7 linked regions of the Homo sapiens genome follow. Changing the gene in region 2 together with the main gene of any one other region gives a genetic interaction. Each region holds a gene or a part of one and is shown on either strand. Other genes may lie near its edges. The genes, in order: RTF1, VPS4A, COPE, PSMD1, SCYL1, BNIP1 and SEC22B.

What was found.
Region 1: changes in VPS4A (region 2) and RTF1 together harm fitness more than expected from each alone (negative genetic interaction), as found in Homo sapiens cells (one large-scale study listed by BioGRID).
Region 3: changes in VPS4A (region 2) and COPE together harm fitness more than expected from each alone (negative genetic interaction), as found in Homo sapiens cells (one large-scale study listed by BioGRID).
Region 4: changes in VPS4A (region 2) and PSMD1 together harm fitness more than expected from each alone (negative genetic interaction), as found in Homo sapiens cells (one large-scale study listed by BioGRID).
Region 5: changes in VPS4A (region 2) and SCYL1 together harm fitness more than expected from each alone (negative genetic interaction), as found in Homo sapiens cells (one large-scale study listed by BioGRID).
Region 6: changes in VPS4A (region 2) and BNIP1 together harm fitness more than expected from each alone (negative genetic interaction), as found in Homo sapiens cells (one large-scale study listed by BioGRID).
Region 7: changes in VPS4A (region 2) and SEC22B together harm fitness more than expected from each alone (negative genetic interaction), as found in Homo sapiens cells (one large-scale study listed by BioGRID).

Annotation. Positions count from the first base shown.
Region 1 is NC_000015.10:41,469,095-41,472,594, reverse strand, and holds part of RTF1 (RNA polymerase-associated protein RTF1 homolog), read right to left. Parts: intron 2,339-3,500; coding exon 2,203-2,338; intron 1,424-2,202; coding exon 1,246-1,423; intron 1-1,245. UniProt on the Homo sapiens protein: Component of the PAF1 complex (PAF1C) which has multiple functions during transcription by RNA polymerase II and is implicated in regulation of development and maintenance of embryonic stem cell pluripotency.
Region 2 is NC_000016.10:69,321,350-69,324,394, reverse strand, and holds part of VPS4A (vacuolar protein sorting-associated protein 4A), read right to left. Parts: intron 1,836-3,045; coding exon 1,695-1,835; intron 188-1,694; coding exon 86-187; 3' UTR 1-85. UniProt on the Homo sapiens protein: Involved in late steps of the endosomal multivesicular bodies (MVB) pathway. Recognizes membrane-associated ESCRT-III assemblies and catalyzes their disassembly, possibly in combination with membrane fission.
Region 3 is NC_000019.10:18,902,388-18,905,887, forward strand, and holds part of COPE (coatomer subunit epsilon), read right to left. Parts: coding exon of another isoform or gene 3,480-3,500; intron 3,243-3,479; coding exon 3,189-3,242; intron 2,466-3,188; coding exon 2,384-2,465; intron 1,037-2,383; coding exon 881-1,036; intron 1-880. UniProt on the Homo sapiens protein: The coatomer is a cytosolic protein complex that binds to dilysine motifs and reversibly associates with Golgi non-clathrin-coated vesicles, which further mediate biosynthetic protein transport from the ER, via the Golgi up to the trans Golgi network.
Region 4 is NC_000002.12:231,070,367-231,073,866, reverse strand, and holds part of PSMD1 (26S proteasome non-ATPase regulatory subunit 1), read right to left. Parts: intron 1,679-3,500; coding exon 1,452-1,678; intron 1-1,451. UniProt on the Homo sapiens protein: Component of the 26S proteasome, a multiprotein complex involved in the ATP-dependent degradation of ubiquitinated proteins.
Region 5 is NC_000011.10:65,531,583-65,535,082, reverse strand, and holds part of SCYL1 (N-terminal kinase-like protein), read right to left. Parts: coding exon 3,400-3,500; intron 2,392-3,399; coding exon 2,278-2,391; intron 1-2,277. UniProt on the Homo sapiens protein: Regulates COPI-mediated retrograde protein traffic at the interface between the Golgi apparatus and the endoplasmic reticulum. Involved in the maintenance of the Golgi apparatus morphology.
Region 6 is NC_000005.10:173,158,031-173,161,530, reverse strand, and holds part of BNIP1 (vesicle transport protein SEC20), read right to left. Parts: intron 2,788-3,500; coding exon 2,686-2,787; intron 1,599-2,685; coding exon 1,480-1,598; intron 1-1,479. UniProt on the Homo sapiens protein: As part of a SNARE complex may be involved in endoplasmic reticulum membranes fusion and be required for the maintenance of endoplasmic reticulum organization. Also plays a role in apoptosis.
Region 7 is NC_000001.11:120,152,521-120,156,020, forward strand, and holds part of SEC22B (vesicle-trafficking protein SEC22b), read right to left. Parts: 3' UTR 1-3,500. UniProt on the Homo sapiens protein: SNARE involved in targeting and fusion of ER-derived transport vesicles with the Golgi complex as well as Golgi-derived retrograde transport vesicles with the ER.

The sequences.
Region 1 (3,500 bases), on a different chromosome or scaffold from region 2:
GTGAGCCAAGAGCGTGCCACTGCACTCCAGCCTGGGCAACGGGGTAAGACTCTGTCTCCAAAAATAAAAAACAAAAAATTAAAAATAAGGCCGGGCTCAGTGGCTCATGTCAATAATCCCAGCACTTTGGGAGGCCGAGACAGGTGGATCACCTGAGGTCAGGAGTTCAAGACCAGCCTGGCCAACATGGTGAAACCCCATCTCTACTAAAAATACAAACAGTAGCCAGGCACGGTGGCGGGTGCCTGTAACACTAGCTACTCGGGAGGCTGAGGCAGGGGAATTACTTGAACCCAGGAGGCGGAGGTTGCAGTGAGCCAAGATCGTGCCATTGCACTCCAGCCTGGGCGACAAAAGCGAAACTCTGTCTGAAAAAAAAAAACAACAAATAAATAAAAATAAAAATAGGCCAGGTGCGGTGGCTCACGCCAGCACTTTGGGAGGCTGAGGCAGGTGGATCACAAGGTCAAGAGTTCAAGACCAGCCTCGCCAACATGGTGAAACCCCGTCTCTACTAAAAATACAAAAATTAGCCAGGTGTGGTGGCATGCGCCTGTAGTCCCAGCTACTTGGGAGGCTGAGGCGGGAGAATCACTTGAACCCGGGAGGCGGAGGTTGCAGTGAGCCAAGACCACGCCATTGCACTCCAGCCTGGGTGACAGAATGAGACTCCGTCTCAAAAAATAAAAATAAAAAAATAATAATAATGGTAAAATAAAATATAAATAAATAAATAAATAAATCCCAAAGTGTTGGGATTACAGGAGTAAGCCACTGTGCCCAGTCCACCTAGACCACAGAAGCAGTGCTGGAACCTACATAATAACCTGTATTAGTCTGGAGGGTTTTTTTTAACCTCAATACAATTCCCTGGTGTAGAAGTCACTTGGTATGCAACATGAAACTTTTCATTCATTGGTTTTTCAAATGAACAAATCTTTTAGATTATGTAACTCCCAATGAACACTTCATAGATGCCTCCCTTCTCCCTTTTATACTGAAGGGAGAATAGAGAAAATTATTCTACATCCAAATCTTCCAGGCCCTTGGGCTCCAAGTCCTCCTCTTGGCAACAAGTCATGAAGGATTCCTGGGCACCTCACTGCTCTATGGGGATCCCACTTGGAGTCTACTTTCCATCAAATGCTGAGAGAAGAGTGATCGATTTTTTCAGTAGCTCCTGCCCTCAGTTGAGACTAATTATACTGAAAGCATGGACAATTGTCCAAGGGAAGAAATACCAACCCGGTAAACTGGTTTGCTGTTGTGGTTTCCGATGCCAATCCGCACAAAACATCCTGTGACAGTTTTAGCAAAGAAGGGCATGTGACACCAGCGTTCTAGCTTATGCCGTGATAATCGAACCCGATTCAATTCTTCAGGTAAGGAAACTGGTTGGGATTTGGGAGGGATCTCTTCTTTCCTAAGAGGAACAAAGGGGCACTGGAAAAAATGTTCATCATAAAAACAGAACAAGACAGAAAAATAATATCAACTCCTCAAAACTTAACCAAAGTACATGTGACTGGCCTAGGAGGAGAAGTAAATGAAGCACCAGCAAAGACTTGTAATAGGATCCTGTTCCTGACCAGTAGTATGAGCTGTTTCAAATGAGGCTGCCATCTTAGATAACCCATCAGAGTAAGAAAATGAATGAGCCTGTAATCCCAGCACTTTGGGAGGCCGAGGCGGGCGGATCACGAGGTCAGGAGATCGAGACCATCCCGGCTAAAACAGTGAAACCCTGTCTCTATTAAAAATACAAAAAATTAGCCGGGCGTAGTGGCGGGCGCCTATAGTCCCAGCTACTTGGGAGGCTGAGGCAAGAGAATGGCGTGAACCCGGGAGGCGGAGCTTGCAGTGAGCCGAGATCCTGCCACTGCACTCCAGCCTGGGCGACAGAGCGAGACTCCGTCTCAAAAAAAAAAAAAAAAAAAAAAAAAAGAAAATGAATGAAAGCTCCAGGCCAATCTGAGAATGACACGAAGTCAGTTCCTACCTTCCAGGCCCAGGTGAAATGTCTAAGCGTACAGGCTAGCAGCCAAATGAATGGGCTGACGTGCTGGGGAACTCAGTTCAGCAAACCAAAGGTAACCATGTCAGAGTTAGTGGCCCAACCAGGGAGATTTTGGAAACGATACCAAGCTCTTCCTCAAAAACCCACCTATCCTGCCTACTAGACCAAAATGTACAAGAGCTTACTCCTCTTCTTCATCAGACGATGATGTTCGTGATGAGCGGTCTGACTTTTCACTGGATTTGTCATCCTCTTCCTCCTCTTCATCATCAGAGTAGACCTCACTGGTTTTTAATGGCTGTTTTTTGGCAAGGAGCTCAGCTAGAAAGAAAGAAGAGATGTTTACCTAGGTTTTCTCAACAAGAAAATGAATTCATCCTTGAAAAAGAACTGGAAATGGAAGAGGACTCAAATACACAGCTCCGTCCTCTCTAGACTGGATTGTGCTAACTTGGGGTATATACAGAAATGAGTTAAAACACAGAGTTAAAATTATTCAGGTGCCAAATGTCAGGCCCCAGCAGATGAAAAAAGGGCTGGAAGATTGATACTAGGTGGGCAGAAAGGGTCACCAACACTACTGACAGTTCTCTTTTATGGCACTCAAGACACTTGACTATGGGGAGGAAAGAGGGGGAAAGACTCATGATGACTTCAGAAGCTTCTGAGGAAAATTTAAAATAGGAGAGTGGCTAAATCACCACTGGTACATCTACCAATGAACTACTATGCAGCTATAAAAAAGGAACGTGGGGACGGGTGCGGTGGCTTACGCCTGTAATCTCAGCACTTTGGGAGGCAGAGGCAGGTGGATCACTTGAGGTCAGGAGTTCGAGACCAGCTTGGTCAACATGGTGAAACTCTGTCTCTACTAAAATACAAAAATTAGCCAGGCATTGTGGCCGGCACCTGTTATCCCAGCTACTTGGGAGGCTGAGGCAGGAGAATCGCTTGAACCCGGGAGGCGGAGGTTGCAGTGAGCCAAGACTGTATACCACTGCACTCCAGCCTGGGCAACAGAGCGAGACTCCATCTCAAAAAAAAAAAAAGGAACGTGGCCAGGCATGGTGACTCATGCCTGTAATCCCAGCACTTTGGGAGGTCGAGGTGGGTAGATCACTTGAGCTCAGGGGTTTGGGACCAGCCTGGGCAACATGGTGAATCTGCATCTCTACCAAAAATACAAAAAACAAACCAGGAGTGGTGGCTAAAAAAAAAAGAGAGAGAAAACTGTGTATAATATGCTACCATTAATCTAAGATGGCAGGTTAATCTGTGTACTTACGATTTAAAAAGAAAAAAGAATAATATAAAAAAATTTTAGGCTGGGAGTGTTGGCTCATGCACTTTGGGAGGCCAAGGCAAGGCGGATCACTTAAGGTCAGGAGTTCAAGACCACCCTGGCCAACATGGCTAAACCCCATCTCTACTAAAAATACAAAACAAAATTAGGTGGTGGTGCACGCATGTAGTCTCAGCTACT
Region 2 (3,045 bases):
GCCCTGTCTGGCTGTTGACATGGGGAGTGCCTGGATTTGCCCCAATCAACCTCCCACCTTCACCATTGCCCAAGTGAAGCAGCTTTTAACTCTCTTGCCCAAAGTCCTCTGAGAATTTCTTCACTTTCAGGAGGTCGTCTGCATTCACCGTGGGCCGGGTGGTGGCCAGAGACCGCAGCATGTCCGACTGTGAAGGCAACAGTATGTGCCTGAGCAGGAGCCAGGCTCCAGGTCCCCAACCTCCCCTCAGCACACAACAGGCGCAGCTGAGGGTGGGAAGAGGTTTGCCTTCAAGGCCACCCCAGAGGCCTGCTTGAATCTGCCTATGGCAGGGACCCTCTTCCCTCTCGAGGCAGCTCAGATGGGCCTCCTCCTGGTCTGAGAATCTAAGCTCCATCATCTCATAACTCCCCTTACGAACTTGCTTTCTTTTTTTTTTTTTTTTTTTTTGGAGACGGAGTCTGTCACCCAGGCTGGAGTGCAGTGGCATGATCTCGGCTCACCGCAACCTCCACCTCCTCGGTTCAAGTGACTCTCCTGCCTCAGCCTCCCAAATAGCTGGGACTACAGGCACGTGCCACCACACATGGCTGATTTTTGTATTTTTAGCAGAGACGGGGTTTCACTATGTTGGCCAGGCTGCTCTTGAACTCCTGACCTCAGGCGATCTGCCCGCCTCGGCCTCCCGAAGTGCTGGGATTACAGGCGGGAGCCACGGCGCCCGGCCAGGAGCCTTCTTAGCTGCACACCCCCAACACCAGCCACAAGGGCAGACCCTTGCCAGGATGGCACGGGCCAGGCTATGCAGGTGAGGCGCTGCCTTTGCAACTGCGTCACAGTCTTGACACATTCACTGCCTCACTGCACCGCAAAGCCAAACCCATGGATTGACGTCATATTATCTGGACCTGACTTTACTTGCTAAAGAATATAAAATGCAGGCTAGGTGTGGTGGCTCAGCTCATGCTTGTAATCCCAGCACTTTGGGAGGCCACGCTGAGAGGATCACTTGAGCCCAGCAGTTTCAGACTGGCCTGGGCAACACTGTGAGGCCGTTTCTAAAAAAAAAAGGAAAAATTAGCTGGGCATGATGGTGTGTGCCTGTTGCTACTCAGGAGGCTGAGGTCAGAAGATTGTGTGAGCTCGTGAGGTCAAGCCTGCAGTGAGCTATCACTGCACCACTGCATCTAGCCTTTCTCTGTATGTACAAAATGCTAATGCTGCCACCTGCATTCTGGGCCCCCAGTGAGTGTAATGCCAGCTTCCCTGAGCTACAAAGGCCATTCTCAACAGCCCAGGACATAGAAGAAGACTATTTTTTATTTTTGAGACGGAGTCTCACTCTGTCACCCAGGCTGGAGTGCAGTGGCCCAATCTCTGCTCACTGCAACCTCTGCCTCCCGGCTTCAAGCGATCCTTCTGCCTCAGCCTCCTGAGTAGCTGGGACTACAAGTGCACACCACCACACCCGGCTAATTTTTGTATTTTTAGTAGAGACAGGGTTTCTCCATATTGGCTAGGCTGGTCTCGAACTCCTAACCTTGTGATCTGCCCACCCTGGCCTCCCAAAGTGCTGGGATTACAGGCGTGAGCTACCATGCCTGGCCTGGAGAAGACCGTTTTTATTCTGGACCCAAACCCTCAATTTTCTGGGCTCTGTGCAGCCCTCTTCCCTCCCCTGTCAAGTCACTTACCATGCAAACCACAGGCTCTAAGAGTTTGTCCCCAGGGACATCCATCCAAGTCATCTCCATGGCTCCTGGGTCCCCTGGTGAGCATGGAGTCAGGAGGTCATCAATCATCATGCTGGGGTTGGTGCGAGAGGGGCCACAGACCTGAAACCAAATGGATCTGACTGGGGCAGCTGCCCCTCAGTGTCAGAGGGGCTCGACCCCTCCGGTCTCTAAGGAAGTCCCAAAGAGAATGCTCTGTGGGTCCCTAGCATCTGAGGAGGACGGGCTCCTTCAGAACTCGGGCTGGGTGGTCCGAGCGACTCATGATTTGCATGGGACTCTGGCAATCTGTAGCCCCAATGCCTTGATGTCTTCCTCATTAACACTGTCACGTCTCACCAGGAATACAGTGACATTAAAAGTGTGATATGGTTTAGCTGTGCCCCCACCCACATTTCAACTTGAACTGTATCTATCTCCCAGAATTCCCACATGTTGTGGGAGGGACCCAGGGGGAGGTAACTGAATCATGGGGGCTGGTCTTTCCCGTGCTATTCTCGTGATGGTGAAGTCTCACGAGATCTGATGGGTTTATCAGGGGTTTCCACTTTTGTTTCTTCATTTTCTCTTGCCACCAGCATGTAAGAAGTGCCTTTGGTCTCCTACCATGATTCTGAGGCCTCCCTAGCCATGTGGAACTGTAAGGCCAATTAAACCTCTTTTTCTTCCCAGTCTCGGGTATGTCTTTATCAGCAGCATGAAAATAGATTAACACAAAGTGGTTTTCCAACTGAAGTCCGCTGCCTTGGCAAAACATTCCCCCAATGTCCACAAGGCTCATTCCCTCACACCTTCACCTCCTGTCTCAGGCATCACCCCAGTGCCATCTGCCCTTCCCTCCATGCCCGAGACACCTCTCTCCTAACCCTGCTCCATCTCCATCCTCTGAGACACTCACTGACTGTGTTGACTGTCTCCCCACCAACAACGGAAGGTCTAGGATTTTTGTCTGTTGGTCACTCATATCTTCCCAGCACTTAGGACAGGGCCGGGCACACAGGAGGACCCACAGCAAATACTCAGCAGAGATCTGCTGAATGAATAGACAGGTCTTCCTGGTCATTTTATATCCAACACTTTCCAAACACTGATTTGGTGTCCACCCCGCACAAGAGCACACAGTGCTGACGGAGGAGGCCGCAGCAGGGTTAAGACAGTAAAGTGGCCCTGTCCTCTGCTTTCACACACCCTGAGATGGCCACACTCCAGAAGAGCTGCAGGGAGGGGACAGTGGGTGCAGCCCCCATGGCACTGGCCCTCGGCTCTCCAGGAGGCCTCAGAGACTGTGTCACCTGAGCAGCCGGGGAGCAGG
Region 3 (3,500 bases), on a different chromosome or scaffold from region 2:
GGCGTGGTGGCTCACGCCTATAATCCCAGCACTTTGGGAGGCTGAGGCGGGTGGATCACCTGAGGTCAGGAGTTTGAGACCAGCCTGACCAACATGGCAAAACCCCGTCTCTACTAAAAATACAAAAATTAGCCAGGCGTGGTGGCAGCCGCCTGTAATCCCAGCTACTTGGGAGGCTGAGGCAAAAGAATCACTTGAACCCAGGAGGCGGAGGTTGCATTGAGCTGAGATCACACCACTGCACTGCAGCCTGGGTGACAGAGTGAGACTCCATCTCAAAAAAAAAAAAAAAGAAGAAAGGAAAGGAAGGAAAGGAAGGAAAGGAAGGAAAGGAAAGGAAGGAAAGGAAGGAAAGGAAGGAAAGGAAGGAAGGAAGGAAGGGAAAGAAGGAAGGAAGGAAGGAAGGAAGGAAGGAAGGAAGGAAGGAAGGAAGGAAGGAAGAAAAGACTGCAGACATCAGGCAGGAGATGACTGCAGCCACCCTGGGCAGGCAGCGCTCTCTCAACGAAGAGCTCCTGTCCACAGCACACTCTCCCCTACATAAGTACGGGGAGTGTCTCTCCAATACTGAGTATGTACTCAGGTGAGGGGTCCCACTTGCAGGTCCCGGGCCAGGCAGCTGAGGTGACAACAAGGACGGCTCAGACCACTGAGGCCCAGGCTGCCCAGATGCCCCATTTCTGTGAGGCCGGAATCTGGATTTCTTTGCAGGTGAGATCCCTGCTTTGTGGATCTCGCTGCTGACTGGGCCTTAGAAGCCCTGTGGGGCCACACGCACACCCAGGGGGTCTCTGCTACACTTGTTTCTGTCCGCCCTGACCCCACCCTCTGGCCGCCTGGCCTTCCCTCCGTCCCCACTCTGGGACAGGCTTGTGCCTACCTTGTCTAGCGCCTCCTGCAGCAGGCCCTCAGCGGCCTCCCAGCGGCCCTGGGCCATGTGGCAGGCCGCCTGCCCATTGAGCAGCAGCAGGGTGGGCGAGCACTTGTCAGCCATCTCCTGGAAGATGTAGTAGGCATCCTGCAGCTTCTCACCACCCTGCAGGGAGGGTCCCGCATCATTGCCTGTGCCCCTGCTGCCCGGCCCTTCCCCCGCCAGCCCCCTCCCCTAGCGGGGGGGACTCCAGCACTGCACAGAGACGAATCTGGTGTGCCCGGTTCAAGGCACAGCCACTCCGCCATGGGGACTACCCGTAACTTGTACTCTGCTGATGGGGCCTAAAGACTCGTGGCCGCCTCCTGCCCCACCTCCCACCCAGCTCCCGGAGTGCTGAGTACACAGAGGTGGAATCTGGGGCTTCCAAGGCCTCAGTGCACAGGTGGCTGGCTCAGGGTCTGAGTGGGGACCACTGGGTCACTGAGCACGTCAGAGGAGGAGGAGTCAGCTCTGTGACCAGCAGCCCTGACCTGTCCACTTGCTCAGAACAGCAGAACACTTGCAGGGGGAGCCTGAGGCCAAGGCAGGCAGTGAAAACAGCCCAAACTACCCGATAGGTCTGCCGGGGCCTGTCCTACCATACTAGACGGTCACTGGAAGTCTGTCTGGGTGAGGCTTCAGCCCCGTGGCGGGCAGGGACGGGGAGCACATTTTTTTTTCTTTCTCAGAGTTTCACTCTTGTTGCTCAGGCAGGAGTGCACTGGCGCGATCTTGGCTCACCGCAACCTCCACCTCCCGGGTTCAAGCGATTCTCCTGCCTCAGCCTCCTGAGTAGCTGGGTTTACAGGTGCATGGCACCAAGCCCAGCTAATTTTGTATTTTTGGTAAAGATGGGGTTTCTCCATGTTGGTCAGGCTGGTCTAGAACTCCCAACCTCACATGATCCACCCGCCTCGGCCTCCCGAAGTGCTGGGATTACAGGCGTGAGCCACTGCGACCAGCCAGGAAGCACATTTTAATAGGCCCACACAAAAGAGTGGCTCAGAAGGGGGCCAAGTCCCAGAAACCAGGAGAGGGGCTGTTGCCGGGCGGAGGTGCCCAGGCCTGGGAGCTGAGGACATCTCCACCGCTGCTATGGGAACACTGAACTCCGTCCCTGGCTGGCGACCAGGACCCTGGAGAGCAAAGCTGAGTCGCAGAAAACCCCAGGAAGCCCTGAGGGGAGGAGGGCCTGCCAGGCCAACCCAGACCCTCGAGTACCCCTGTGCCTCAGGCTCAGGAACCCGTCCCCGCCCCCACCATCTCTTCGCTCTGGCTCTGGCCAAGTCGCTTGGCTGTGAGAAGCCCGGAATGGAGTCAAGGCTGAGTTATGCCAGGCTGGCAGGGGCCACGGCCTGATCCTGGAGCCCCACTGGAGTGGCCAGCAGCCTACGCACAGGTGGGGGTGCCCACAGACCCTGCTCAGCCAGGTGCCCGCAATGCCCACCCACCTCATGGCCTAGGGCTCACCGTGGCCAGGCTGACCCAGGCAGTGGCGAGCTGGGTGAGGGTGGCATCCTCGTCCAGGTCCTGCATTCTCTTCAGCTCCTTCCTGGGGCGGGGACAGATGACAGAGGGGCTGAGTGGCCGAGGGCCCTGGCCTGGCCATCCCTGCCTTGTCCCCACTTGGGGCCCACCGGAGCCTGGGGATGGCCCCTGCTTTGTGCTCCACTGCATGCTCATACCCCACGACTAAGTGCCCGAGCCACCCTGCCCGTCTGACCACGTGCAGGCCCTGGGAAGGTGGGACTGGGGCCAGCTATGGCCCCCCAGGGTGGCCACCACAAGGTAGAGCTCAGGAGAGACTCACTCCATGGAGGATGGAACGCAGGGAAGGGCAACGGAACTACAGTGTGAACAACTCTGAGGCAAGGGCTTTGGAAACGGCAGCAGGGGAGTCCTGGACCCCCAGCCATGGCCTCCGACCTGGTGATGCCACGTGCAGGCCCCGCCAGCCCCACGGCACAGTTACAAGCTGGTCAAGTAACATGTTGCTCCAGGCACAACCTCCACTCTCCCTCCATGAAGCCCACCCTCACCCTGTGGGAGAGGCCTGCCACCCACTGCATAGAGAGAAACTGAGGCACAGAGAGCCATGGCCCTCCTCCCTGGCAACATACTGCAGGGAAGGGCTGAACGACAGCAAGCCACCCCCATGGAAAGGAAAGACAACAAGAGTAATGACAGCACCACAGACGCTCTGGGCTGTGACGCTCTGGGCTGTGACGCTCTGGGCTGTGGCTCAGTGCGGGTGGAGAGGGGCAGGAGGGCTCACCGGGCGAGGTCCAGGCGGTCCAGCTTCAGCAGGATCTGCACTGTCATGGCTGTGCTGCAGGACAGGGCGAGGGGGCGGTCAGCGGGTCGCCACAGACACATTGCATGGCCGCTCCACACCCAGGGCTCACTGTGTGTGTCTGGGATGTTCCTAAGTCCTGTGCTTAGGACCACCAGCCCCGCCCAGCAGAGGAGGACACCCTCACTCCCACATTTCACCGCTCAGCTTCCTCAGGCCCAGGAGCTCTGGGGGAGGTACCCAGGATGGGGTTTCAGGCCCCGGCCCACTCACCGCCCATCTGGAGAAGCAGCC
Region 4 (3,500 bases), on a different chromosome or scaffold from region 2:
TGATTTTATCAAGGTCATAGGATTCAATGTTAGTATATAAAAATCAATTATATTTCTATATACTACCAACAAAAAAAATAGAAATTTAAAAATACCACTTCACAACAGCATCAAAAAACAAATTATACTTAGGGATATAAGAACATTAATTTAAGAAAAGATGTGTAAAACCTCTGCACTGAATCTACAAAACACTACTGAGAAAAAAATAAAAAACCTAAGTAAATGAAAAAGATCACCATATTCCTGGATTACAAGATTCAATATTATCGGGATTTCAATGTGCCCCAAATTGAAGATATTCAATACAATCCCAATCAGAACACCCACAGACTTATATAATGCAAAAAATCTACAATAGCCCAAAGAATCTTGAAAAAGAAAAAAGAATCAAAATTGTAGGTCTTACAATACCTGACTGCAAGACTTAGCATAGTTTTAGTAATAAGGAAAGAGGTAGTGATATAAAGAAAAATATAGGCATACCTTTGTTTTACTGCCCTTCAAGGAAGTCTATTGGAGCCACTTCTCCAATAGTATGTGATCACTTTGTCCTTGTGTTACATTTTAGTTATCCTTGCAATATTTAAAACTTTTTAATTATCGTTATATCTGTTATGGTAATCTGTCATCAGTGATCTTTGATGTTACCATTGTAGTTGTTTTGGGACACCACGAACCACACCCATATAAAACAGCAAACTCAATCAATAAATGTGTGTGTTCTGACTGCTCCACACACCGGTCATTCCCCCATCTCTCTCCTTCTCCTTGGGACTCCCTATTCCCTGAGACACAACAATATTGAAATTAGGCCAATTAATAACCCTACAATGGCCTCTGAGTGCTTAAGTGAAAGAGAGAGTCCCACATTTCTCAGACACAGATATCCAGTGAAAGAGCGGGCTAGGGGGCTGCCGGCATATACAGGCACAACTAAGACACACAAATGTTTTTAGTAAGTGATCTAAACGTGTAAAATACAGAAAAATAAAATTTTAATACCATATCAATTTGTACAGAATGCAAATTTCTAATACTATAGAAATTTGTGTATTTAGTTCTAATAAAAGCATAAAAAGCTGAGAATGTTCTTTACTTTCTAAATATCTAACCCAGATATATCTAACCCAAATATCTAAAAGGTAGCCCCAACCTATCCCCACCTGTTTTTTTAAATTTACTTGATTAAATAGTACACATGTTGTCTGGTAGGCCCTCCCTACGAGATAATCACTTCTATTTCTTTCCAGAAGGGTCAATTTCTTCGGTTTTCCTTACTACACCCAGCACAGTACAAAACAGAGCAACAGCCTAATAAGACTTTACAATCTATGAAAGCTAGTGGCAAAATTTATTCTTAGAATATGCTTCCTATAAATATTCTACCTGTCCCCAAAATGAAATAAAGATTATTCAATTAGTTTTGATGCAGAAAAAGGTACTTATACCTGTCTTTCTCTGATCCCGGAACAGTACCCGTATTAGTGGATCCAGGCACAGAAGCAATAGGGGTGCCAACAGTTCGAAGATTCTGGATTACAGATGACAAAAACTGCTGGCTAGCACTTTCATACAAATCAAAACAAATCTGATATGCCATCAGGAGGTTGTCTTCCTTTACCAGTTTCTCTAAGATATCACTCACAGCCTGAGGATCATCTAAGAAAATTAAGCACTGAAATGGAGATAAAGAACAATTATTCAATAATTAAAAACTTCATCTACAAGGTACTTAAGGAGACAAAATCAACATTATAGAAAACCTTAAAATATAAGCACAGGCAAACTAGGGCAGACTATCCAGTCTAGCACTCTATTTCTAAACCCAGCACTAGATGAAATTTTTCTAAACATGGCATCTGTCTTCCATAAAAAAATTCATACAAATTATATTTATAACTCTTAATGCTGTGCCTGGTAATCAGCAGTATTCAACATTGGTTGTTGAATGAATCTTGGCTTCTTTAAATCTTATCCATAAGTTATACCTAAGTGCTCCTTAATTTGTTATTTTCTCCCTTACCATATATTATGGAAGTTACTCATTCATTTAACATACATTGTGTTGTGTTGGGCCAGGACAAGAGACATTAAAATTACCATTTTGAAGCATTTCTCTTACTACTCTTATGATCTGCCATTGTTTTAACAAAATTATCCAACAAAGTTAGAATTTTTCTTTTAAAAACTCAATTTAAATTTTCTTGTTCCCTTAGGCAGCAAGTAACTCAACTTCAAAATAAACACATTAATCAAAGTTATTATAAATTAAGAACACGAAATAACACAAACAAAATAAGTGGTCAACAATAGGGGAATGATTAAGTAGGGCAAAGTACATACACTGAATGATTACAACAATCAAGTAAGAGGACTCTATGAAGAATTAGAACATGGAAAAATGTTAAAGACTGTATACAATTAACACTGTTTATCCACAGAGAAAAGAACTTGGTAGCTGGAGCCAAGTAATAGGAAGACTTCATTGTATACCCCATCATTCTTTTTGAATTTTAAATCACATGAACATATTATCTGCTCAAAAATATATTATTTTAAAAATGAGCAATAAAGTTTTTAAAAATAATAAAAAGATAAGGAATAAAACAGCTGAAAGAAATAAAATTGCCTCTAAGGAATAAAACTGAAATACAGACAGGAAGAGGGCAGGGAACTACTATTTTTCATGTCAGTTTTAAAAAAAACTATGAAAAATATTTACAAACAACAAAACTCCGAAAACCTATGTAGAGAAAACTGAAAGGAAATACACTATTAAATACTAAATTGACTTTGGGTGATGTAAAAAATCAAGTTAGAATAGTAAGTTGACTTTGGGTGATTTAAACATGGATATTTTTTCTTCTAGTATTTTGTTTCAAACTTGCTTTAAAAGGGATTGTAAAAAACAGTGTTTTAATCTAAATTTTCAAAGTCTAGAGGATTAAAATACACAGGAGCACATTTTAATGAAGAAACAATAAAATGTGCAATAAAATGCTATGCCCTGAGCAGAATACAAAAAATGTATACAACATAGCAATTGTTAAAAAGTAAACCCATGCACACCTCCAGTCAATAAAATACAATACAGTCATTAAAAGAATGCAGTAGATCCACATGTGTGAATAAGTAGGGAAAAACATCTATGTCTTACCTTTGGGAAAAAGCCCAAATGATGGGAAAGAGAAGCCTTACTTTTCATTTTATATATTTTCTGTACCATCTGAATTTTTTTTTATGTGCAAGCAAATTTATATATAGAAAGAGATAAAGAAAAGATACCCAAATGTTTTGGTGTGTATGGGTAATGAAACCATATATAATTTATACACTTTGAATTCTCTTTAGAATGATATAGTATAGCATAGGCACTGTTTTAATCTTCTAGCTTTTTAAAAAACCTTCGTTATTTCTAAAAATTTCCTTAAATTATTGGATTTTCAAAATGAAAAAAGAATACAAAGAAAGAATGTGTTACAACAAAATAGCTTTTT
Region 5 (3,500 bases), on a different chromosome or scaffold from region 2:
CATGTTGAAGAAAGGGACCCCATTTCTGTCCCCCTTTACAGCAAAACCTCCAAAGTCTGTCTGCACTCCTGTTTCCCATTTCCTCTGCTCTGCTCTCCTGATGGCACTCCACCTAGACTCACACAAACAGCCCCACACTCTGCCAAACTGGCTCAGGGTGAGGTCACTGATGCCCTCCCCGGTACTAATTTCAACAGCCAGTTCTCCATCCTCACCAAACTTGACCCTCAGCAGTTCTGACACCCCTGAGTTTTCCCTCCCTGAAACTTTGGTCTCTGGTCTTCCAGGACACCACCCCCTCCTGGTTCTCCTCTGACCTGGCTGGCTGCTCCTTTTGCTGAGACTCTAACGTTCACACACCCGGAGCCAATCTAGAGGGCTCTTTTCTATCTAACACTCTTGCCCTAGGTGATCTCAGCCATTTCATGGCTTTCAATGCCATCTTGTGAGCTGACAACCCCCAGGCACATACCCCTAGCCCAGACTTCCCTAAATTTCACACATGCATAACCAGTGGCCAACTCGACATCTCCATCCAGCTGCCTAACAGAAACAGCCAAGATGGGGCCCAACATGCTTGTGTCATCTCAGTAAATAGCAACTCCTAACCTTCCAGTTGCTCAGGCCACAAGCCTCAGAGCCACTCTCGTCTCCGTATCTTTTTTGTTTCTGAGATAGAGTCTCACTCTGTCACCCAGGCTGGAGTGCAGTGGTGTGATCTCTACTCACTGCAACCTCTGCCTCCTGGGTTCAAGCAATTCTCCTGCCTCAGCCTCCTGAGTGGCTAGGATTACAGGCGCCCACCACCATGCCTGGCTAATTTTTTTAATTTTTATTTTATTTTATTTTTTTGAGACGGAGTCTTGCTCTGTTGCCCAGGCTGGAGTGCAGTGGCGCGATATCGGCTCACTGCAAGCTCCATCTCCGAGGTTCACACCATTCTCCTGCCTCAGCCTCCCAAGTAGCTGGGACCACAGGCGCCCACCACCATGCCCGGCTAGATTGTTTTTGTACTTTTAGTAGAGACGGGGTTTCACCATGTTAGCCAGGATGGTCTTGATCTCCTGCCCTTGTGATCCGCCCACCTCAGCCTCCCAAAGTCTGGGATTACAGGTGTGAGCAACCGGGCCCAGCCATTTTTTGTATTTTTAGTAGAGATGGGGTTTTACCATGTTTTACCATGTTGGCCAGGCTGGTCTCAAACTCCCATCGCCTCAGGTGATCCACCCGCCTCGGCCTCCCAAAGTGCTGGGATTACAGGCATGGGCCACCAGGCCCGGCCTAAAATAATTTCTTAAATTTTGAGATGAGGTCTCACTCTGTTGCCCAGGCTGGAATGCAGTGTCACGATCACAGCTCAATGCAGCCTCAACCTCCTGGGCTCAAGCTACCTACCTGCCTCAGCCTCCCGAGTAGCTGGGACTATAGGCGTGCATCACCATACGCGCCTAACTTTTGTATTTTTTTGTAGAGATGGGGTTTGGCCATGATGACCAGGCTGGTCTCCAACTCCTGGGCTCAAGCGATCCTCCCACCTCGGCCTACCAAAGTGCTGGGATCACAGGCGTAAGCCACTGCGCCCAGCCCCTGACCACTGTTTTTAAAACCACAAACTCTTCTCCCCACACTTTCCAACAATGCATATTTTCTTTCTTTTTTTGAAACAGAGTTTCCCTCTTGTTGCCCATGCTGGAGTGCAACGGCATGATCTCGGCTCACTGCAACCTCTGCCTCCCAGGTTCAATTGAGTCTCCTGCCTCAGCCTCCCGAGTAGCTGGGATTACAGGCATGCGCCACCATCCCCAGATGGTTTTGTACTTTTTAGTAGAGACAGGGCTTCGCCATGTTGGTCAGGCTGGTCTCGAACTCCTGACCTCAGGTGATCCGCTTGCCTCAGCCTCCCAAAGTGCAGGGATTATGGGCGTGAGCCACCGTGACCAGCCAACAATACATATTTTCTAATTCTGTTGTATTGTCTGGCAAGCCCACCCTCTGTGCCCTGGAAAGGAAGCTCCATGAGTGCAGGGGGCTGGGCACCTCATGCATGCTGCCTCCCAGCATGGGGCTTGGGCCAGGAACAGGCAGATGCTCGTTGTCTGCTGAATGGAGGACGTGCTCCCCCGCCAGCTGCCGAGCTGCACCCACGGCCTGAACCCACACAGCAAGGACAGTGTCTGCTTGGACCCATGGGCCAAAGCCAAGGCCTCTGTGTCTAGGGTGAGCCCCTCCAAGCCTTGGAAAACCAGGGGTAGCCACTCTGGGCCTGGCCACACCCACCTTGACCGTCTGCTCCCGGATGGCAGGGTTGGTGTCCAGGAAGCCATGTACGACGTGGGGGAAGATCTGGGTGTTGACTGTTGGCTCGTCAAGGTACTGGATGAACTGCTCCATCTGTGGCCCAGGTTGGGATGCGTCAACATGGTCAGCCCTTCCCACTCTATCCCCATAGCCATGGAACCGCTCCTGGCTTAGCTTTTCCACCCAGCAGGCACTGGCCAGCCAGGTCAACCTCCTGAGCCACCACCCAGGTGTTTGGCCTCAGGCCCAGGTGGAGGAGTGAGGAAAGGCCAGGAGGGCGCTAGGAAGGCCTGGCTCATAGTCCGGCTCATCTGGCCACCCTCTCAGAGCCTCTTCTATTTTTTTTTTTTTTTTTTTTCTGAGACAGAGTCTTGCTCTGTCACCGAGGCTGGAGTGCAGTGGCGCAATCTCAGCTCACTGAAACCTCTGCCTCCCAGGTTCAAGCAATTCTCCTGCCTCAGCCTCCTGAGCAGCTGGGATTACAGGCACCCACCACCGCACCTGGCTAATTTTTGTATTTTTAGTAGAGACGGGGTTTCGCCAAGTTGGCCAGGCTGGTCTTAAACTCCTGACCTCAGGTGATCTGCCTGCCTCGGCCCTCCCAAAGTGCTGGGATTACAGGCATGAGCCACTGCGCCCAGCCTGAGCCTCTTCTATAAATGAGGGTATCACCCCTTCCCTGCTCCTCCCCACCTGCCCACAGTGCCACGAGGAGGACTGGTGTGTTTGGTGGTCACAGAGGGAATGGCACTGGGAGCCACTGGTACTTCCTAGATCCCATCCATCTTGTCTGATGCTCCCAGCTGCCCTGGGGTTGCAGGAGAAAGACTGTATCCCCACTCTAGAGGGCCAGAGTGACTGAGCCAGGAGAGGAGGGGGCATTAGAGCGCTGCAGCCTGGGCAAGCTGGCCATTCCCAAAACTGCCAAGGAGCCCTGTATGTGGCCAACTTTCTGAGAGCCTGGCCTCATTGGGTCCCTCAGTTGTGTGTATGTTCAGGGGTGGGGTTTCTGGGGTCCCTGTGCAGCCAGGGCAGGTGCCTCCCCAGCCACCAGGTTGGGGTCTGGGTGGACCACCACAGAGTCTGGTACAGAGGCCTCACCTGCTGCAGGAGGCGGATGCGCATGGCCCGGTCAGTGGATGAGAACATCTTGACCACCACAGGGATGATCTTCTGCTGATACTCCTCAGCGCTCAGGAACT
Region 6 (3,500 bases), on a different chromosome or scaffold from region 2:
CCAGAAGCCACCAGCATTTGTGTTTCCTTCCCACTGTTAGCGGGGGGTATGCTGTCGCCACACCAGAGCATAAAAGCCCTGGGCTCAGAGGCCAAGTTGTCGCCTTGCTCCCTCTCTCTCCAAGGCCTCTCCCACAGCACACGCTGAGAGGAAGCCCCTGGCTGGTTCCGAGCCCAGATGTTCAGGTAAGCTGCAAACTCAAGGAGTGACCTTGGGGTCACCTGCTTGCTTTCCTTTTGCTTCTGCCTATTTGGTGCACTGAAAAAACAGTGGTCCAAAATTATAATTTCTAGGGGTGATCATGGTATTGTAGTTATGGGGTTGCTTCTGCTTTTTCCCCAAAGAGTCCCTTATCTTTTAGAGAGATGTACTGAGATATTTATGGATGATGTCTGGGATTTGCTTCAAAATAATCCAGATGGGGGATGGGCTGAGGGTAGAACTGAAACGAGACTGGCTGGGGTAATGGACTCAGGGCTCAGGGGATTCAGGATACCATGCTTTCTCCTTTTGTCCACGTGTGCAATTTTCCAAAAGCGTTTCAAGGAGTAAACGCCCTTTTTCTGTTGTCTTATACTGAAGGACCCTGGAGAGGGCTGATACTCTTCTCCATCACAGAGGAGACACTCTGGGAAAACTATTGGAGGAAACCAGATGGTCTCAAGCAGTCTCTCCTGTAGCCTCTGATTCACATCTTTTAAAAGGAACTCATAGGAAAAATAACGTTGGGGAGTATAATTGTAAACTGAGGTCCTAGCAGTCCTACCAGCAGCTGATTCGCCAAACATCTCTTGGAGCAACCATTCCCAAACTTGCCTGGCCATATGGGTCCCCAGAGCCCTCACTGAAAATCAGACTCCAGGCCCCTCACCCAGCCCTGCCGACACCCTCTCTAGGAGAGGGGCTGGGACCTCTGCCTTTCACATGAACACATGGGAATGCTCCCCCTGAGGAAACATCGATGGGGGTGTGGGGTCTTCTAGTAAACAGAAATACGGGCCGGGCGTGGCATCTCACGCCTATAATCCCAGCACTTTGGGAGGCTGAGGCAGGCGGATCACCTGAGGTTGGGAGTTCAAGACCAGCCTGACCAACATGGAGAAACCCCGTCTCTACTAAAAATACAAAATTAGCCGGGTGTGGTGGTGCAGGCCGGTAATCCCAGCTACTTGGGAGGCTAAGGCAGGAGAATCGCTTGAAACCAGGAGGCAGAGGTTGCGGTGAGCTGAGATCGCACCATTGCACTCCAACCTGGGCAACAAGAGCGAAACTCCATCTCAAAAAAAAAAAAGAGAAATAGGAGCAGCACATCCCACACTGGATAAGACCATGGTGTCAAGTCATCTCATGAGGGAGAAGCCACCCAAGTCAGTGAACATCGTGTGGGCTGTGGTGGAGGAGCCCAGAGTGGAGGTGCCAGGGCAAGGGCCCTAGAGCAGCGTCTCTGGGAGAAGCTTCCTACTCCAGGCCCAGCTTTACCTAGAGACTGCATGGCCTCCTCGCTCTGCTGGACCTGCTGGGCCATCATCCTGCTGATCCCCATGAGGCTCTCAGTGATGGTACTGGATGTCTGGGCCAGGCTCTCTTTGGTGGTTTTCCTAAAAGTTCAGAGGAAGAGAAAGGGGAGGAATGTCAACAAAAGCCTCCCTGCAAGAAGGCCCCACATCCAAATGAGATCTCATGTTTTACCTATCCAATTAGTATACATATTTTAAATGATCACATTCAATGCTGGAAAGGGTGTGCTGAGACCCACGCCCCTGTGGACTGCTAGTAGGAACATAAACCAGTGCTGCCTTCTGTAAAGCAATTTGCCAATTGAAGAGCCTTGGTAATGTTCATTCCTTTGACTCAATCATCTCATCCCTGGAAATCCCTCCAAAGGAAACATCCAAAATGTGGATAAAGCCTTATGTTCTAAGACATGCCCTGGTGTATTACTTACACTACTTAAACACTAGAAATGCAAACACACACAGGGAATTGTATTAACATACAATCTACATACTATGTACTGTTAGAATTAGGCTTAAAAAGCTTTTTTTTTTTTTTTAATGAACAACTTTTGTGCTGAAACAGCAGAATATGAAATTTTATGTATGGTACAATTTTGACTTTGTAAGAAATGTAGAAATAAAAATGAGGGAGAGAATATACCAAAATGTTCATGAGTAATAAGATTTGATATTTTCGGCCGGGCATGGTGGCTCACGCCTATAATCCTAGCACTTTGGGAGGCTGGGGTGGGTGGATCACCAGAAGTCAGGAGTTCAAGACCAGCCTGGCCAACGTGGTTAAACCCCGTCTCTACTAAAAATACAAAAAATTAGCTGGGTGCAGTGGCACGCAACTGTAATCCCAGATACTTTGGAGGCTGAGGCAGGAGAATCACTTGAACCCAGGAGGCGGAGGTTGCGGTGAGCCAAGAGGGCACCACTGCACTCCAGCCTGGGCTACAAGAGTGAGACTTCATCTCAGAAAAAAAAAAAAATTCAATATTTTAATTTTGTAATTCATACTTTATTTTACCAATTTACTACAAATAAGTATGCATTTTTTTCAAACTTAAAAAAATTACTTATGTAATTAAATTAAGCACCAAGCTGAAAACAAGAGGGGGTTTCCTACACCTTGCCAATTGTTATCTATTATTATCGGAGCCCAGAAAAATAAAAGAATAGGTACCTTTGCCTTAAGAGATCTCCTCCCTGAAGAAGTTCTGCTTTCTCTAGATTGTCGATTGCAATTTTGCAGGTGAGATTAGCTTTCCTCCATGAGGCCTGATTGCTGGAATTGGAAGGTTCACGTGTGAGTGTGTCCACTCCACCAAGCCATAAGTCAGTTCAATTCACAGCACTTCCCCCCAACAAAGGCACACGGGAGAAGGCCACCAGGCACGGCCTTCAGAGCCCATCCCACCTCCTGCCACTTCCGCCTCCTGGTTCCCCAGCAACTGTTCTTGCTCAGGTCCTGATACCCCTTGACCGGACCCTGGAGGTCGCCACGGGGAGGCTCTGTTGCTGTCACTCTGCCCCCGTCAGCCCAAGGGGCTGTGAACATGGCACTCCTCTGTGCACAGCTCCACAATGGCTGGACTTCAGGGAGGCATCCAAACTTCCCAGCTGGTCACACAAGGCCCCTCTTCAGTCCAGTTGCCTCTAAGGCTGTACTGCTATGGCCTGTGTATTAATTGGTACCATCCCCGGAGAACCATGACTTACTCATCTCCAGTATCTTGAACAACCATTTCTGGCCCTTCAGCTGCTGAGTTAATATACTTTGTAGGAAATAAAAAATCGTGGCCAGGCACAGTGGTTCACACCTGTAATCATAGCACTTTAGGAGGCCGAGGTGGGGGGATCACTTGAGCCCAGGAGTTCAAGACCAGCCTGGGCAACATGGAGAAACCCCGTCTCTACTAAAAATACAAAAAATTAGCCAGGCATGGTGGTGGCGCATGCCTGTGGTTCCAGCTACCCAGGAGGCGGAGGAGCGAAGAT
Region 7 (3,500 bases), on a different chromosome or scaffold from region 2:
GGCTAAAATTTTAGTGAATCAGATGTGGAAAACAGTTGGATTAACATTGAGATCAAATGAGAAAGGAGCAAATAAGGAAAGAGGTATTACAAACCAAGAGTAAAAAAGGGAAAACAAAATAACAAAAGCAAAAACTATTTAAAAAGAATAAAGGAAGACGTGATAATGAAGTAAATTTAAAAAGTACGGAATAATAAAAAGAAATTGCAAAAAATAACTTTTGAAAATAAACATACTAATAACTTGACAATAAAGTGAAATGTGTAAGACAAACGTATCTGTGTCATTATTTAGGAGTAGTGAAAAGTACTCTTAAATAATAATTTGGTATCTAGCAGGCCTGGATTTGAATCTACTTTAACTTGCTAGCTATGTGACCTTGGGCAAGCAAAGAAACTCCTCATAACCATTGTAATAATACCAGCAAAATGCCTTACACTTACGGCTCAAAAAATGAAGGAAATGAGAGAAAAAAGTATAGATTACTATATGGAAGTCAAATTTCTAGTGACTTTTCTAATCCAAACATGAATTGTTACAGTACTTGAAATAAACTTTATGAGAACTGAGTGACTACATTGCTTCAGATAGTTTTATACTGCTAGGTCAACGCTGCCTGACAGTAATAAGAATAGGATGTGAGATTCAATATGCTCATTCTATCTCAAACTCTGTCACACATACAATGACTGCTATTTACCTTCCTCCTGAGCCATCTGGGAAAAAACCAACCAACCAACCAACCAAACAAAAGAAAAACCCACCAGGTAGGAGTCAGTTAGTTCTGCTAACTAACTAACCAAAAACCTTAATTGTATGGCCATCAGCACCCTAGCCCTTTGTCATGAAAGCTACCAATAAGGTGGAAATTTAAAATATGAGATATTTTATTATACATGTTTTATTAAACCCTATATGTGCAGAAATGATTGTCCATTTTCCTTCTTAACTTGCTTTTGTAAGACTTATTAAGTAGAAAATATAAATCTCAAGCTCCTTAAATGTGATTTTGAGGAACTGAGACCAAAACAATTTTTTGCTGTGGAACCAGATCCTTGAATGCACTACAGGAAAATATTATTTGATATGAAATTTTTTTGGTACACACAATTTTTCAAAAATATATCTCTCTCCACAAAGTTAATTCAAATTGTAGAATTCTTCCAAGTCACAGATGGAGTTTTCAAGGCTCTGGGTACTTACCTTTGAGTTCCACATCCTTTATCTCTGGAGCTCTTAACTGAGGGAACATGGACCATTAGGTCATGAACAGACTTTGTAGTCTTTGAACAGCCTGAAACAGTATGTGATACTTGATGTGCATGTACACAGGAACATTTTTCTAGAGTAATGGCACATACCTTTCATCAGATTTTCAAAGGTTTCTCAAAATGCTCAAGAACCATTGTTAGATATTTAAATAACCAGAGTGTACAGTGTCCAAATATTTCCAAATTTTGACACTTGTAAGATGTCTTAATTAAAACAAGCCATGAAGTTCAGCGTCACAATAACCAGAAAAGCACTTGTGAGAGTAGTTCTATGTCTTTACTTCCTAGTGGTTTACACACTCTTTAACCCATATGGCAATCTGGCTTCTGTCTCCAGTGCTCTGGAATTACTTCTGCCTGTATGATTAAGTTCCTCATTGTTAAATTCGAAAATACATTCTTTGGTATTTATTTGACCTCTTGGTGGTAATATAGCGTAAGAGCACAGACTCTGGAGCCAAACTGCCTAGGTTCAAATCTTAGCTCTATTACTTTCTAACTCTGTGACTTTGGGCAAATGACTTAACTCTCTCATGCCTCAAAGCAGAATCCTTTGTAAGGTTTATTTATATAGTGGTGTAAAGAGTACTTACTTCAAAAGCTTTGGTCAGTGTGAGAAATAAGCTCCTAACAAAGAAAGTGTTATGTAATAGTTATTATCTGGTACCTCTGATCACAACATTTTTGAAAATCACTTGAAATCTGCCTAAGTTTCATTCTGCCTTTGATGGCTCCTTATTTTCATCTCCCTACTTCAGGCTTCCTCCCTAATATATCTTTTATGCCAATATTATGATCACTTGAAACTATAAATCTGATGCCATCCTTGGCCACTACCATTAAGATGGTCTAAACTCCTCAGCATGATAGACAAGTCCCTTTATGATAGTGTACCCATCTAGTTCTCATTCCTCAAGTCTCCTCTGTTGTCTATGCTTACCCTATGGGCTAAGCTGAATCAAGCTGTTACATTTCCAAAATATGCCTCACTGTCTTTATTCATGCCTTTGCACATGCCATTGACTCTTCCTAGAATGCCCCATTCTCCTTCTCTAGAAAGTCTTCTCTTAACATACTTCTTCCCAAAATAAATTAGGTGTCCTTTCTTAATATGCCTCCAATAACCCCATACAGTATTTATCCCATTCTATTTTAGATGCCAGTTTGGTTGATGATACATTTCATCTAGTCAGATCTTCCCACTGCCTCTTATAAAGAAAACCAGGAGCCATATTATGATATTCTTGTTCTCTAATTTTTCTGCTGCCCTGATCTTAAACCACTTTCTTCTCCCTTTGTTGACAATTACCCCACCCCTTATTTCTTAATTAGCCCAACAAGATTAGATAGAAATGTATCTACAAAGGATATATGTATATAAATTAACTAGATAACAAAACTTCACACTGAAGTGAACATTCTACAAGTATTTATTTCATTGCTGACCATTAGGTTGCAGCATGCAACTCTCAACAATGAGCTGCCCCTCTCCACTCCTATAGAAGCTCCAAATACTATGGTACCACTATGTAGGTTTTCAGCCTTTCAAAGGCTTTTATTATTAACATCATCATTACTTCAGCAGGAGCCTTTTAGGGACTTAAAAGCACTGATTATCTATAAAAAGTAACTTCATATTTCATGCACAAAATTCCCAATTGGCAGATTTAGGTCCATAAAAGAAAGGAAAAAAATTATTCTAGTTATATAAATTATCAGGAATAAAATAGCATTTCTCCTTGCCTTGTTATAAGGAAATAATATATTTTTCCTTACCAGGAATCAGGATAGTATCTTTGATGATCCCTCAGGGTTATAAAATTGCTTACTGGTTAAAGTTTTTTGCCAAAGATATTAAGAAATAAAAAGTTCGCTCATTTTCCTGTGCAATTTAAAGAAATATTTGCAGTATGTACAGGAATTTTAAGTTATATTGCAGACCCTGGCAATAATATTTAAAAGGCCTATTTTCCCCATTAAAAAATTCTACCTCAGAAGGTAAAAGGAAATCTCCATCATCCCTGAGCAGAAAAGGAAAAAATCATGGGTACTTTAATTAGTTAATAGAAACCACTGTAAATGAGTTATCTATCTCCAGAACATTCTCAGAGAATTTACACGAACTAAAACAGGAATGAAGTGCTCTCAGAGACTTTTTCTCAGGTAAATGTATTTAGTAGTTTGAGTAGTTGATCTGCAAAAACTTTAACTTTAATTAACTACATAGAT